Linked DNA regions of Homo sapiens: region 2 is reported to be linked to region 1. Evidence: microRNA targets listed by miRTarBase, many of them from high-throughput screens and not tested one by one. Region 1 holds a microRNA gene; the other region holds the end of a gene's coding sequence. Distances are between the middles of the regions.

Region 1 (7,268 bases):
GATACCTTCTTAGTCTTTAGAAGTCATCAATATGTTGTTATTCGATTTTTTAGGATTTGGAAAAAATATTTTTGAAAACACATTAAGTGTATAAAGTGTCAGTTCTTGTTAAAATTTTATTCAAATTTTTTCCATGATTCGAATATTTTCTATATTTCAGTAAGTTGCTTTGAGGAAAGTAGAATCATCACAGCAGAAGTTTATTGCTCTTCATGTTTCATAAACTCAGTCCATTTGAATGATATTATGCTAATTGAGTTTTAGAGAGTCAAGCTTCACGTCAAATATTTTTTCTCTCATACTTGTGGAAAGCAAGAGTTCTGTTCTCCTATTAGCACTTATTAAATATTGTGATTATTATTCAATGTGGACACATTTTATCAATAAAATAAGAGCTCAGGGGAGGAACACGAAGAATATATAGTTTGTAATGGTAAGATATGGTGGAAGAGATTGTAAATTGTACTACTTACAGTTGTTGTTGTTGTTTTTTTTAATCCTCTTGATTTTAATGTTAGTAGCCTCTAAATTATTTGCCTCTGACTATTTCTTTCTACTTGTCTTCCTGAAAACTCATGTTTCATAGTAGAAAATGTGGTTTGATATTGGGTTTTCCAATAGCAGAGTAAGAAAGTGACTCAATGATAAATCAGGTACTCTTATTAATGATAACAGAAACGAATAATAATACAGGTAAGAATTCTTATTATTCTAGCAGCAGGAGATGTCTAGATTATCAATTGACTAGTGTCAAACAAATTTTCCCCAAAATGATTGAATTCTTAATAATATTACTGATAGTTTTAAAACTTTAAATCAAGAGTTTAAAAACCCCATGAGATTTTTAAATAAAACAACAAAATGGGGAATTTAGCAGCAAGAAAAGAAGTGAAGGGCTTGATTAATCTGCTAATTATATGCATATTAATTAATTAATTTCCTTATTTTGAAACAGAGTCTCACTCTATTACCCAGGTTGGAGTGTAGCAGCAGAATCTCAGCTCAATGCAATCTGTGCCACTGGGGCTGAAGTGATCCTCCTGTCTCAGCCTCCCAAGTAGCTGGGACCACAGGCACTTGCCACTACGCCTGGATAATTTTTTGTATTTTTTTAAATAGAGATGGGGTTTTGCCATGTTGCGCAGGCTGGTCTCAAACTCCTGAGTTCAAGGAGCTCAAGATATCTGCCACTTTGGCCTCCCAAAGTTCTGGGATTATAGACATGAGTCATCATGCTTGGCCTGCTAATTATATAATTAAGAGTTCAATAGAGTTGAGATTTATGTGCATTTAATAAAAAAAGTTTCATTTATGTTTATTGCCTCTATAAAATGTAACTGATGGGCTATAAAAACTAAAGTACTTGAAAGTATGAGTGTATCTAAAGTTTTAAATCCTGTACTTCTAGATGAGCTATTCCATTTTCAGTCTATGAATTGCTAAGACTATGTCCAAGGAATTACACTGACAAACCTAATGGATGAGTGAGTGAATGTCCTTTTCTTTTTTGATTACAAGAAAAAAATACTCTAAAATAATCCCATTCTCTTTCTTGCTCTGTTATTTGTGAGTCATCAAATTCGTTTTGTGATCTCTATAATGTTTTTTTTTAATTAGTTAGCTTCCTCTTGGCTGTAATAAATAGCTCAGTTATTTCCACTAAATTGACCCATCCATTCCATTTATTTGGGCAATTGAATTATCGACTGAGTGGAATGACAAAGAGAATTCATTAGTATTAATTGTTTAGATAAATATGTGTGGTCCAATAATCAAAATATAAATTAAATATATGTGTAGAAAACCTTTAGAGGAAACGTTTCTTTTCCTCTCTTCACAGTTTATTTACTCACTACCAGTTACTTGATGTGTAAGTCAAGTCCCATCCTCTCTTTGAAGAGATAATTTGTGTAAAGTGTTTGACACAGAACAGGATTGCATAGTATCTTAAGGTTATAGCTAGTTTTTAATTTTCTGATCTTCCTTTTGCCTCTTCCTCACTACTGAGCTTTCTTCCTAGTCTCAGTTTTTGCGCTTATTATTTCATTTTTATAACTACTCCCTTGAGTTGTCATTTTTTAAATATCTGCAGTTTCTCCAACTAGACTCCAAGTCTCTTCTACATCGTATTGTACTCATACTTGAAAATAATAAATGCTTGGCAAATACTGAATGATAAGCCTCTTCTGCCTGTGAATGGTCCTTGTTCTGAGCAGAACACATGTGTGCTGACTCTTTTTCATGGGACCCACGCCTACTGGAAGCACCCTCTCCATTCGGAGTTCATCTTTGCAAACCCCACCCCCAAACAAACAAACAAAATGTTTTGTTTGGAACCCTGGGCAAAGTCTCCTGAATATTAGACTGGGTGATAAATCATGAATCATATTTGTACTTGGGTAAAATTTAACCCAAATTCCATTTGGAATCTTCAAGCTAATTAACTTCCTCCTGAGTCCCAAGGTTCTTTTTCTAGCAAAGCTTATATATTTACTATTAAAATAAAATCTGATATAAAAGTTGACAGGAATTTTCTCTTGACAACATTATTTCTAGTTACTACAATGTTTGACAATATACTTTTCTGAAAATATGTTCATTCATCTGTACTCTTTCTGTCTCATCCTCATACTCTGTTGATTTAATGGTCCAGGCATGCCCCTCTCTGCTAATCTTTTCTTCTAAGCCTCTTGGAATACGTGCACCCTTACAAATAAATTTTCCAGCACCTTCAGTTTTTTCAAGGAGAGTTCATCCATTTGTTAATTTGAATAGGAAACAAACTGTAACATTAGAATCTTTTTAATAAAAGCTGCTCATTTTCATACTGCTCCCCATATATCACAGGTTTGGAAATGTGTTACCCCTCTTCTTACAAATTATACACCATTACATTTCCCCTTATTTGAGGCGTATGTTATTTATTACAGCCTTTGCTTTTTTCTTGTCACTGTGTTTTGTCAACCTTTGGTGATTCCTCCACAATTATGGAGGGTTTGGGCGGGAGCTTCTATTCTTTTTATTTTATTTTATTTTATTTTATCTTAATTCCAGATGCTAGTATCATTGTTTTCGCATTCTTTGCCCAGGTAATACCCTGTTCCAGACCCTGCCTTTATAGTTCCTTTAGTTTGGTGACTTTTATATCCAATTCTGCCTGGCACCCTCTTGTTAGGCTGGACCTGAGTATGACCAAGATTGCTCTACTTCTGGAAACTTACGTGGCAACATCCCACCATGTAACTCTAACTTGTCCTTTCAGTGTTCACACTTCCTTACTAACACCAAACTGATTCATTTTTACATATCATCAAGACCTTCAGTACCCTATATATTTCCATGCTTTCCACCCATTTTTAACCTGAACTTTTCTTTCCTGGCTCTTATTTACTCTTCTATCTTGTGCATTCTTTCTTCTGCCCTATGGCTCTACTTACGTTTCTCTTAAAATTTCTGATGATCTTTTTCATGCCAGGTCCAATGAACAATTTTTTTTTTCTGATTCTCCTCCTCTTTCTTGAAACTTCCTTCTCTTGATTTCTATGATATCATTCTTCTTTGTTTTATGTCCTACTCATCTTATCCTAGTTCTCCTTTACAGTCTTCCCTTCTTTTATTTAGCACTAAAAATTATGTTTTATCAAGGATTCTTCCTTGGTTCTTTGCTCTTTTCATTTCTAGTTTGCTTTGTTTAAACTTCAATAAATGTAATTATATGTTGATGATTTCCAAATCATGATATTTGTCTTACTTCTCTGTGCAGAGCTCTAAAACTATATAGACTGCTTTCCACTGGGTGTCTTTTCATGTTCAGCAGACATTTCAATCCACAGTGTCCAAAATTAATTTTGTCATCTCTTTGAAACTATTTACCCTCTGGTATTTTTTGTGTTTAAATATGGTACCAACATGCAACCAGCCACCCAAGGCTGGATTATTAAATTCTTTTTAAAGCTTGGTTCACTACAGATCTCATTGATTCAATTCATAGATGGCTCAAATTGTTGTCCTCATGAGTCCATTTTAATTATTACGCTTCTAATTAATGTGCCTGCCTTTCTCATCTGAACTCTTGAGAGGTGTTTTAATTTTTCTGCCTCAGGTCTTCCTTCTGGCTGCCATTGGACAATTCCTCTCTCTGGAATGAATAACAACCTCTGAAGACATCCCACTCCACCTCTACATGTCACATGATATTCACCTATTTTTTGACCAGTTATCACTTACATAATCTTTATCTCAGCATTTTAGGAAGGCTTTTTCGCTATGCAAATCTCTGTATTTTATAATCCTGTATAATTATATTTTATAATCCTGTATAATTATATTTTATAATCCTATGCAATCTGTATTATCTTCTGTATTTTATGCTTTTCAAACCTTTATTGTACTCTATTTGTTCTACTTTATTTAGTTTGGACAAGCTGAAGCAGGTGACATGGTTCATCTGTATCCTTGCCTGATGCATCACTGAAATGTAAATGAATTGGTGGTGAGAGAATAATTCAAAGGACTCAGTGTTTGAACCAAGCCTAGTCAATGCTGTCAATGCTGCTGTATCTTGGGTGTTTGTGGAGGCACTAAGGTAGTGGCCAGGACTGAAGAAATTGGGAACTTGACCTTATAAGGCAGCTACAAAACTTGCCCTCTATCATTCTAACCAACCCTTCCAAACTTCTAAAAATCTCAGCTCCACTTCTGCAAGTTTATCTTCCCTGCTTGCATAAAATTGCAGTGCCTAATTTGAACACCTTCGGTATTCATCAAAAATACCAAAGGTGCTCAAATTAGACATTGCATTTTTTGCGCATGTCAAGTTGAAATCTATTCATGGATCTTTAGCTCCTTAAGAGAACATGCATATAACATTACTTTTTACTAGCATTCTTCCAAGTACTTTACATGCCCAACGAGAAAGCATAATATTATCCCCATTGTACAGCTGAAGAAACAGGCATAGAGAAGTTAAGTAATCCGTTGGTGATTACAAAGCTAGAAAATGGCAGAGCCAGGAACTTGAACCCTGTTTTTCTTGGCCATTAGGCTTGCTGGAAGGGGATACTAAGATGTAGGAAGGGAAGGTGGAGATGAGGGTCTTTGTTGATTTTCCTAAAAAAGTTGGCGTTGTACTGGCATATGGAGAGAAGTTGATAAGTAAATATTAAATACATACATGTTGGTTTTGAAATATATGATAAGACTTTTTAAAGTCTACCTGAAGAACTGGCAGTATTATTGGTTCTCCCACAGAATTTTCTTATGAAAGACATAATTTTCCTGAAATGTGAACATAGAGGCATTTGTGATGCCTATTATCCAGCTGTCATCTGTCTATTCATGTTGTACACATCTACTATAATTTAAATAGGAGAACAACAAAATGAAAGACTTAGTTTTCAAAACATAAGTAATGGAAGAAAGTGAATTTGATATATTTTTATGACAGCTTTTAGTAAATACTTTTAAAATGAACTGAAGTTAATTTATGCTTGAGTGGGATTTCTTTCTCTTTTTGGAAAGTTTTTATAAATAAATGAAAGAAAATATGTTCTTACTAATAACAGTTTCCCCTCCATCTTTCCCCCATCTCCTTAGGATACTTGTGGAATGTCTCTAGAGTGAGTCGGCCACTGAGAGGACTTTGTATTGTGTTAACTTCATTATATTGAAATTTTGGAATAGCCTCAGGGAATAAGGGACAGAAAAAAATGGGGCAATATTCACCCGGTGGCATTCATTTTCAGTAAAGAGCAAGTAAAACCCTTTATTAAATTTAATGTTTTATTTTTGCTTAGTTTGGAATATACATGTGTATTTCACATATATAAAAATAGAACTTTTTTTACTAAACTGGTCCAGATCTAGATATTTATAGGCATATGGAATTTGGAGGTTACAAAATTAACTTCTAAGAATAAATATTTCCTACTCCTCAAGTATCATGTAAGAATAATTTTTCTATGACAATAAAAAAAGCGAAACACTACAATCTGACCCATATTTTCTTGCCACAGATTAGCATTTATGTGATCTTATTCTAAGCCTATGTGGTACAGAAAGGTAAAAATGCTAAAAGAATGACTATATCACATATATACTAATATTTCAATGTTTAATTTTCTGAAAAAAAAACTGTACGTTTTGTAAATAGCTGTAGCAGCTATAGTCAAGATGATTTCTTGAGAAGAAATTACCTGTTCTTTAAAAAATGTTCTTGCCAAAATAATGATTGTACATAGCTCAAAAATCAGCTATTATTAGAAGGCTTACAAGAAAACAAGAACAAGTAAAACAACAATAACAAAAACCATCTGGCCCCTGCCTTCACCTTGTCAGCTTTTCCATGATGTACTTTTCAGAAAGAAACACTTTGAAGCCTTTTGAGTGTTTTTCCCTGCTTTTATTCTCTATAGTCAGTTTCACAGTTTCTCAATTTGAGGGAGTATTCATTGACTTCCTACTATGAAATATAAGGATTTAGCAGTCTAACTATACCATCACAACACACATCTCACTCCCCATTCTTCCAATACAGTAATTATTTTTGTTTAGAGCAATACCATGTATGCATATTATATGACTATTTCAGTTTTGCTCAGAACTGAGTAATGAGTATTATGATTATCATTTTCTTATTCAACTGTCTTTGTTTCTAAGTATATACACATTTTCATTTTGTTGTCTGCTAAGTTTTCTAGTTACCTATTGATAGTGTTTCACCAAGCACTGTGGTAGAACTATAAAGCCTTTCTCAGGGTAATCAAACACATCAGACAGTGTACCTGTGGGGAAGGTCCAGGTTATGCTGTGGAAAGAAACACTCTCAGATCCTCCGTGGTTCTCTTCTGTGGAGTTACTCAGGAACTCCCTCCCCTCCCACTGAACCATCTTCAAGCTTCATTCTGTACCCACATTTCTGTGGGATTGTTTATCACTTTTTTCTCTGTTGAGCTGGGGCTTCCATTCTATTATTTCTTCCATTTAGTATTTCTGGAGCTGGGACTTCCATTCATAATAAATCCATTATCTTAGGAATGCTCTTCACTTTCTTTACTTGAGTGTCCTATTTGCTGGATTTGTTTATTCTTTTGTATTGGTGAAGCACATTTTCCAGAAGCTTCCCTAGAAATGGTTTCAGGAGGAAAAGTTTTGAGCTTGTGCATGTCTGAAAATCTTTTTATTCTACCTTTCCACATGAATGGAAACATTTCTAGGTTGGAAAATTATTTTCTGTCAGAATGTGGAAGCCATTTTTCCATTCTTTTATC
Region 2 (7,000 bases), 16 Mb from region 1:
ACAGTTTTGGATAATAATACCAGCTAAAATGTATTGAATAATTGGTATGGGCACCATCCAACTGCTTTACATGTATTGTCTCATGTAATCCTTACATCCTATGAGACAGATACTGTTATTTCTTTTGTAGATGAGGAAGCTGAGGCACAGAGAGGCTAAGCAGGTTGCGCACATAAGTAACCTACAATCCAGCATTTAAAGCCTGGATCAGCAAGGGCACAGTGGCTTACACCTGTAATCCAAGCACTTTGGGAGGCCAAGGCAGTCAGATCACCTGAGGTCAGGAGTTCAAGACCAGCCTGGCCAACATGGTGAAAGTCCACGTCTACTAAAAATACAAAAATTAGCCAAGTGTGGTGGTGCGCGCCTGTAGTCCCAACTACTCGGGAGGCTGAGGCAGGTGAATTGCTTGAACCCAGGAGGTGGAGATTGCAGTGAGCTGAGATCACACCACTGCCCTCCAGCCTGGGCAACAAAGCAAGACTTCTCAAGAAAAAAAAAAAAAATTAGAGTACTGCATCCATCTTTGTCTGTTTGTGTTTCAACCTGAGATTAATGTTGAATATTACTGTTTGTTTGTTTGAAGTCCTTGCCTGCATTAATTGAACAAGGAGAGGGATTTTCCCAAGTTCTCAGGATGCAGCCTGTTATCCACCTCCAGAGGATTCACCAAGAAGTCTTTTCCAGTTGTCATAGGAAACCAGATGCTAAACCTGAGAACTTTATAACACAGATAGAAACCACACCAACAGAGACTGCTTCCAGGAAAACCTCTGACATGGTACTGAAAAGAAAGCAAACTAAAGACTGCCCCCAGAGAAAATGGTATCCATTGCGGCCAAAGAAAATTAATCTTGATACATGAGCTCTTTCTGTTTATTTTGGGAGTTGAAAATAGGCACCATCAACATTTAGATTACAGCCTAATTAATACCTAGATAAGACTTCATTTGAAATAAGAAATAACTCTTTTACTAGTGATTCATTTATACAGATATAGTATCTCTGTGCGGGGATATGATATAATATTGTATTTCCTTACTGTTTTATCTATTGTAAATAAAAAGCATTTTAAAAAGTATTGACACAAAGCCCATCAGTGGGCATTAAAAATATTAAAAGTGCAGACTTTTACTGTCCTTAAGTGCCATCAACTCTCAGCTCCCTTGTAGCTTTTGTGGGATTTAACAAGTAACAAATTCTGTTGTGTTTCCCTGGTATACATCTTTCTAGGAAAAAAAAAAAAAAGAGAGAGAGCTGTATAATGATTTTTCGTTTACATGCTGAAAAGTAATTATCAGTTCTGCACAGCAGCAGATGCAGGGTTTTTTTTTAAAGATGTAGTTTGATTTATCAAATTAATGTGCTGATGATAATACTGGCTTTGACTTTGTTACTCCATGTTCAGCTAATTTAGGTTTGTGAGATTAACTTTAGGATTTTTTGTTGTGTAAGACAATGATAACTATTATTTGTGCAACATTACTCTTTGAAATAAAAATTGGCATGTAGCCAATGTTTCCTGCCCACACTCACTTTTTTCTATAGACCATTAACATAATTTGACTTGGAACTAATGGTTTCTTTTTAGGGTTTCTTATTTATTTCTTTACAAATCATTCCAGTTCAAAATATATATCAGATTAATACACTGGCAAAGTGTCATTGTGTTATTGAACTATTTCACATTTGAAGATGTTTATATATCAGGTATATAATCACTGGGAGAAGTCTGAGAAAACGATATTGGCTTTACTTCTAACATTTAACTATAGTTTCTTATAGCTCTTATTGTGTGTCTTACATTATACAGTGTAGGCAGGGCCATCAAACTTACCAACTGTTTCCCCTTTTGATGACTCTGATACCTTCATTCATTTTTCAAAGGAATTTACTGATCATGAGGTTGGAAAATCTGTATTTCTCTTGCTTATTATGTATTAATAATCATAAATGTCTAGATTCACCAGAAGTCACCAGAAGGTCTGTCTCAGTGAAGAAAACTTATAAAGCCACTTTGTTGCATTTTGTGTTTCAGTGTTACAGTTTGAGATCTGTATATTTGTACACAGCTATGTGTTTTTCATTGAAATAATGTACAAAGACTGATCTTGATGCTGTGTATTTTTATGAGTTGTCTTAGGCATTCCTGAGCTCAGCTTCAGTTGGATGGTGGGTCAGCACCCTGCGTTTCTGAACATACTAGACTTCAGTTTAAAACTGTTTTGAGGCTGTATAATATGTTGCTGTTTTTACAGTGCTAATGTTTTTATAGTATTAAAATTCTGTATGATTTGTTTCACTTCAGAGGTCCCCAAACAAAAGAGTTATTGTTAATTCTATTAGATTATATAAGCTACTTGCATTTTGATTATATAAGAACATGGTCCCTCCCTTTTAAGAGAGGTATATTGTGCTACATAGAGTTTTTAAATGACATGATAGATTTGCTCTGAAGTATTCAGCAGAGAAACAAGGAATCGATTAAGGAAATGTGACAAAAATCCTGTTAATGTTGAATCTGTGTAATGACTATATTCTACTTTGTGTTGGAAATTTTTATAAGTTTTTAAAAAATGGTTATATTTTAAAGTCCCCAGGCAGACAGCTGAGATTTGAAATCCTCTTGAGAGCCCAAAGTTTTACTCCATAGTTATAGCAGAGTTTAAAATAGAAATACCACTGGGAAAGACAGTACGTATTAGCATTATTAACTAAGAAAAGCATGACCAATAGCAGTAATAATATTGAATAAGTATACTGTGTAAGAGGAGAAGTTGCATTTCTGCATAGGCCAAGAACTAGTAAGCTAAGGATTAAAAGCAAGAAAGTCTGTAGTTTTAAGGAATTGGAAAGGTTGAAGGAAAAAATTGAAAATCAAATCTTGCTCTATGATAAAAAGAGTCTGGATTGAATAGGGTCTTAAAATTATCTTTCAGAAAAGAAATAGCCAGGCGCGGTGGGCTCATGCCTGTAATCCCAGCACTTTGGGAGGCTGAAGTGGACAGATTACTTGAGCCCAGCCTGGGCAACATAGTGAAACTCCATTTCTACAAAAAATACAAAAATTAGCAGGGTGTGATGGCACACACCTGTAGTCCCAGCCACCCAGGAGGCTGAAATGAGAGGATCACTTGAGCCCTGGAGGCAGAAGTTGCAGTGAGCCAGGATGGCACCACTGTACTCCAGCCTGGGTGACAGAGTGAGACCCTGTTTCAAAATAATAATAAGAAGAACACAAGAAGGTTAAGTCTAGTCCCAAAGAAGAGAGAACACTGTCAAAGCTGGTTTCTGAAAACTGGTACCAAAATCTACATTTGTTTATTTAGGCTACTATAACAGAATACCACAGGCTGGGTGGCTTAAACAACAGATACTTACTTCTCACAGTTCTGGAGGCTAGAAGTCCATGAGAAGGTGCTGGCAAATGCAGTTTCTGGTGAGGGCTGTCTTCCCGACTTGTAGATGACCACCTCCTTACTATGTCCTCACATGGCCTTTCCTCAGTGCATGCATGTGGAGAGAGGGACAGAGTGCAAGCTCTCTGGTGTCTCTTCTTATAAGGACACCAATTGTATCAGATCAGAGCCCCACCCTTATGGCCTCATTTAACCTTAATTATTTCCTTAGAGGCCCCATCTCCAAATACAGCTATAGGCACATGGGAGTTAAGGCTTCATCATACAGATTTTAGGGGGACACAAACATTGAGTCCATAACACAAGCCCACAGAAAATCTTATCCTAGACCTCTTTCCCTGGCCCTTTATGGCTTGGGCTCCGTAGAGGACAAAGTGAATAAAACCAAATTTTTTATTGCTTCAAACAGTATGATTTCATCTTGTAAGATGTACTTTTTCTTTTCTAAGGCTGAATTTGTTTGATTTCTGGTGAACACCTATCTTCTCTATCCACCTTCATTCATTTATTCATCTGTTCAACACATACAGTTGGACACCTACTCGGATCAAAAGTCAGAGATCTTAAGAGCACAGCCTCTAAGCCAGATCATCTGAGTTCAGATTTCAGTTCTACCATTATTAGTTCAATGATATTGGACAAGTTACTTAACCTGTCTATGATCAAAAGTCAGAGATCTTAAAGAGCATAGTCTCTGAGCCAGATCATCTGGGTTCAGATTGCAGTTCTACCATTATTAGTTCAGTGACATTGGGCAAGTTACATAACCTGTCTATGCTGCAGTTTTCTCATGTGCAAAATGGGGATAATAATTATGCCTACCTCATAGCGTTATTCTGAGAAGTAAATGAGTTCATAATGTGAAGGCCTTAGACTAATAACTGGTGCATATGAGTACTCTATGATCACTGTTATTACTTCTTTTGATAAAGGAAATGAAAACACTCAGGACAAGTGTTGCCTTCAGGAAGGTCATATTCCAGTGAAGAGGATGAGTGTGCAAACAATGATAATGCCATGCAGCAAATGGTATGATAGATGTATGTGTGGAACTTAGGGGAGTAGTCATGGAAGTCTTTGTAGAAGAGGTGGCATTTGAGCAGTCTTGAATGTTTTAGGCAAATAATCAGGGAAGGAATACAGGAATAAAGAACAAATTACTGTTATAACAATGTGGATCAATATCAAAGATACTATATTGAATAAAAGAAGCAAAGCCAGGCACAAGAGAATACATCCTGTGTATGGAATCACAGAATGGGCAAAACTAAGCCATGGTGGTTCCCTCTGGGGAGAGGGGAGATATTAACTGGGAATGGCACGGGAAACATTTTTGGGTGAGCAAAATGTTCTGTATCTTGATCTGAGTGGTGCTCACATGGCTGTATATGTATGTAAAATTTTGTTGAACTATACACTTAAAATTTCTGCACTTTATTTAAGTTTTATATTTTAAAAATGCACAAAACTGATTCACCAAATATTTGAGGAGCGTCTCCAGCATCAAAGACAGACCCAAAAACTGTAAGTCCCTTAATGGCAGGAATCTTTGTTCCATCCACCTGGAATAATTGCTGGCACATGATGGGCCCTCGATGCATAGTGGTTAACTGAGTGAATTAAAACAAAAACCAAAGAGAATAAAGGACCTCAAAGAAAACAGATACATACAAAGCAAAATCCCAGAATGATGACTGTACTCCCAGAAAGAAGAGAAAATCATACATTTTTTGGAAAATCGGAATGCTATTAAATAATGTTCAGTAAATAAGAAAAAGTTTTTGAAAATTAAAAATATGAAAGTTGAAATAAAAATTCAGTGGGAGGGCTGGGAGATAAAATGAAATTTTCCCAAAAATAAAACAGAAAGATTAAGAAATGGCAAATTAGAAAAGTAAGAATAAAGAGAATAAGTTCATAAAGTTCAAAGTCTAATCGATACCCATTCCAGAGATAGCATGCAGAAAAAGCAGCAGAGTCAAAATTATCAAAGAGATAATGCAGTTACCATATGGCCCAGCAATTTTACTCCACGTTCTAAACCTAAGAGAATTGAAAACATGCTCACACAATAACTTACACACAAATGTTTGTAGCAGCAGGTTGAACTTTCATGAACTGATGAATGGATAAATAAAATGTGGACTATCCACTCAATAGAATATTATTTGGCAATAAGAAGAAATGAGGTACTGGTAAATGCCACAGTGTAGATGAACCTTAAAACATGCCAAGTGAAAGAAGCCTCTCACAAAAGACTGCTGAATTTTGTAGACTCCATGTAAATGAACTGTCCAGAACAGGCAAATCTACAGAAACAAAAAATAGATCTGTCACTGCCTAAGGCTGGAAAGATGGAGAGGGTGGAAGGAATAGGAAGTGACTGCTAATGGGTATGGGATTTTTTTTTTTTTTTTTTTGTGAAACAAGGTCTTGCTGTGTTGCCCAAGCTGGAGTACAGTGGTGCTATCTTGGCTTACTGCAACCTCTGCCCCCGCAACTCAAGCCATCCTCCCACCTTAGCCTCCCAAGTAGGTGGGACTATAGGCATGCACCATCATGCCCAGCTAATTTTTGTATTTTTTGTAGAGACGGAGTTTCGCTATGTGGCTGGTCTCAAACTCGTGAGCTCAAGCGATCCGCCCACCTCTGCCTCCCAAAGTGCTGGATTACAGGCGTGAGCCACTGCGCCTGGCCTGGGATGTCTTTTGAGGGTGATGAAAACCCTCTAAATTTGATTATGGTGATTCACGACTGCTTGTTGAATATACTGAAAACCATTGAACAATACAGTTTAAAAGGGTGAGTGAGATGGTAAAGTATATCTCAATTTAAAAAGAGAATAAAGAAATAGAAATAACACAAGAAACATTCCCAGACCTGAGGAATACCAAGAGGAATTGGAATGGCATCAGATTACTAAACAACAATCCTAAAATCTAGAAGCATCTGGAGAAATATTCTCAGCATAAATGATATACAACCTAGGCTTTTATACACAGTCAAACTAATAATCAAGTGCATGATTAGCTAAAAGATATCTCAGATATGCAAAGCGTCAAAAAAAATTACCTCCAAGGCATCCCGTTTGGGGGTTCTACCAGGGGCTGTGCTCTATTCCAAAGGGTAAACCAAAAAAGCAGCAGCCATGGGATCTGGGAAACTAAGGCTCCCAAAACACAGCACACTCGAGTCTACAGGCTACTAACTAATCAGCAGATTTGGAGACTAGGCAGACCAGGTTGGAATAAGACTATGTAGGCCGGGTGCGGTGGCTCACACCTGTAATCCCAGCACCTTGGGAGGCCGAGACAGGCAGATCACCTGAGGCTGGGAATTGGAGACCAGCCTGACCAACAACTAAAAATACAAAATTAGCTGGGCGTGGTGGCGCATGCCTGTAATCCCAGCTACTCAGGAGGCTGAGGCTGGAGAATCGCTTGAACCCAGGAGGCAGAGGTTGCAGTGAGCCAAGATCACGCCATCGCACTCCAGCCTGGGCAACAAGAACGAAACTTCATCTCAAAAAAAAAAAAAGGACTATGTAGGACTCCAAAAGAGATATTTTCAGAAAAAAATAA

What was found. Region 1 holds the annotated microRNA hsa-miR-4735-5p (CCUAAUUUGAACACCUUCGGUA, at 4,738-4,759, shown strand). A microRNA usually pairs through its seed, bases 2 to 8, with sites in the 3' UTR of a target mRNA and lowers its output. Matches are read on the target gene's strand: a 7mer-m8 pairs with bases 2 to 8, a 7mer-A1 pairs with bases 2 to 7 and ends in A, and an 8mer does both.
Region 2: the mRNA of NSL1 is a reported target of hsa-miR-4735-5p. Seed matches in the 3' UTR shown: 7mer-m8 at 3,066-3,072, 8mer at 5,303-5,310 and 7mer-m8 at 6,791-6,797.

The regions. Positions count from the first base shown.
Region 1 is chr1:196,579,944-196,587,211 of GRCh38, reverse strand. MIR4735 (microRNA 4735) reads left to right here and starts at 4,731; the gene lies at 4,731-4,799. All of the region lies in intron 1 of KCNT2 (potassium sodium-activated channel subfamily T member 2), which reads left to right.
Region 2 is chr1:212,732,273-212,739,272 of GRCh38, reverse strand. It overlaps NSL1 (NSL1 component of MIS12 kinetochore complex), which reads left to right. Exons shown (of 6, transcript NM_015471.4): 6 at 587-7,000. The coding sequence ends at 865. Among named protein-coding and RNA genes, the nearest start is that of BATF3, 36 kb to the right of the region's middle. RefSeq lists a silencer at 1,300-1,500.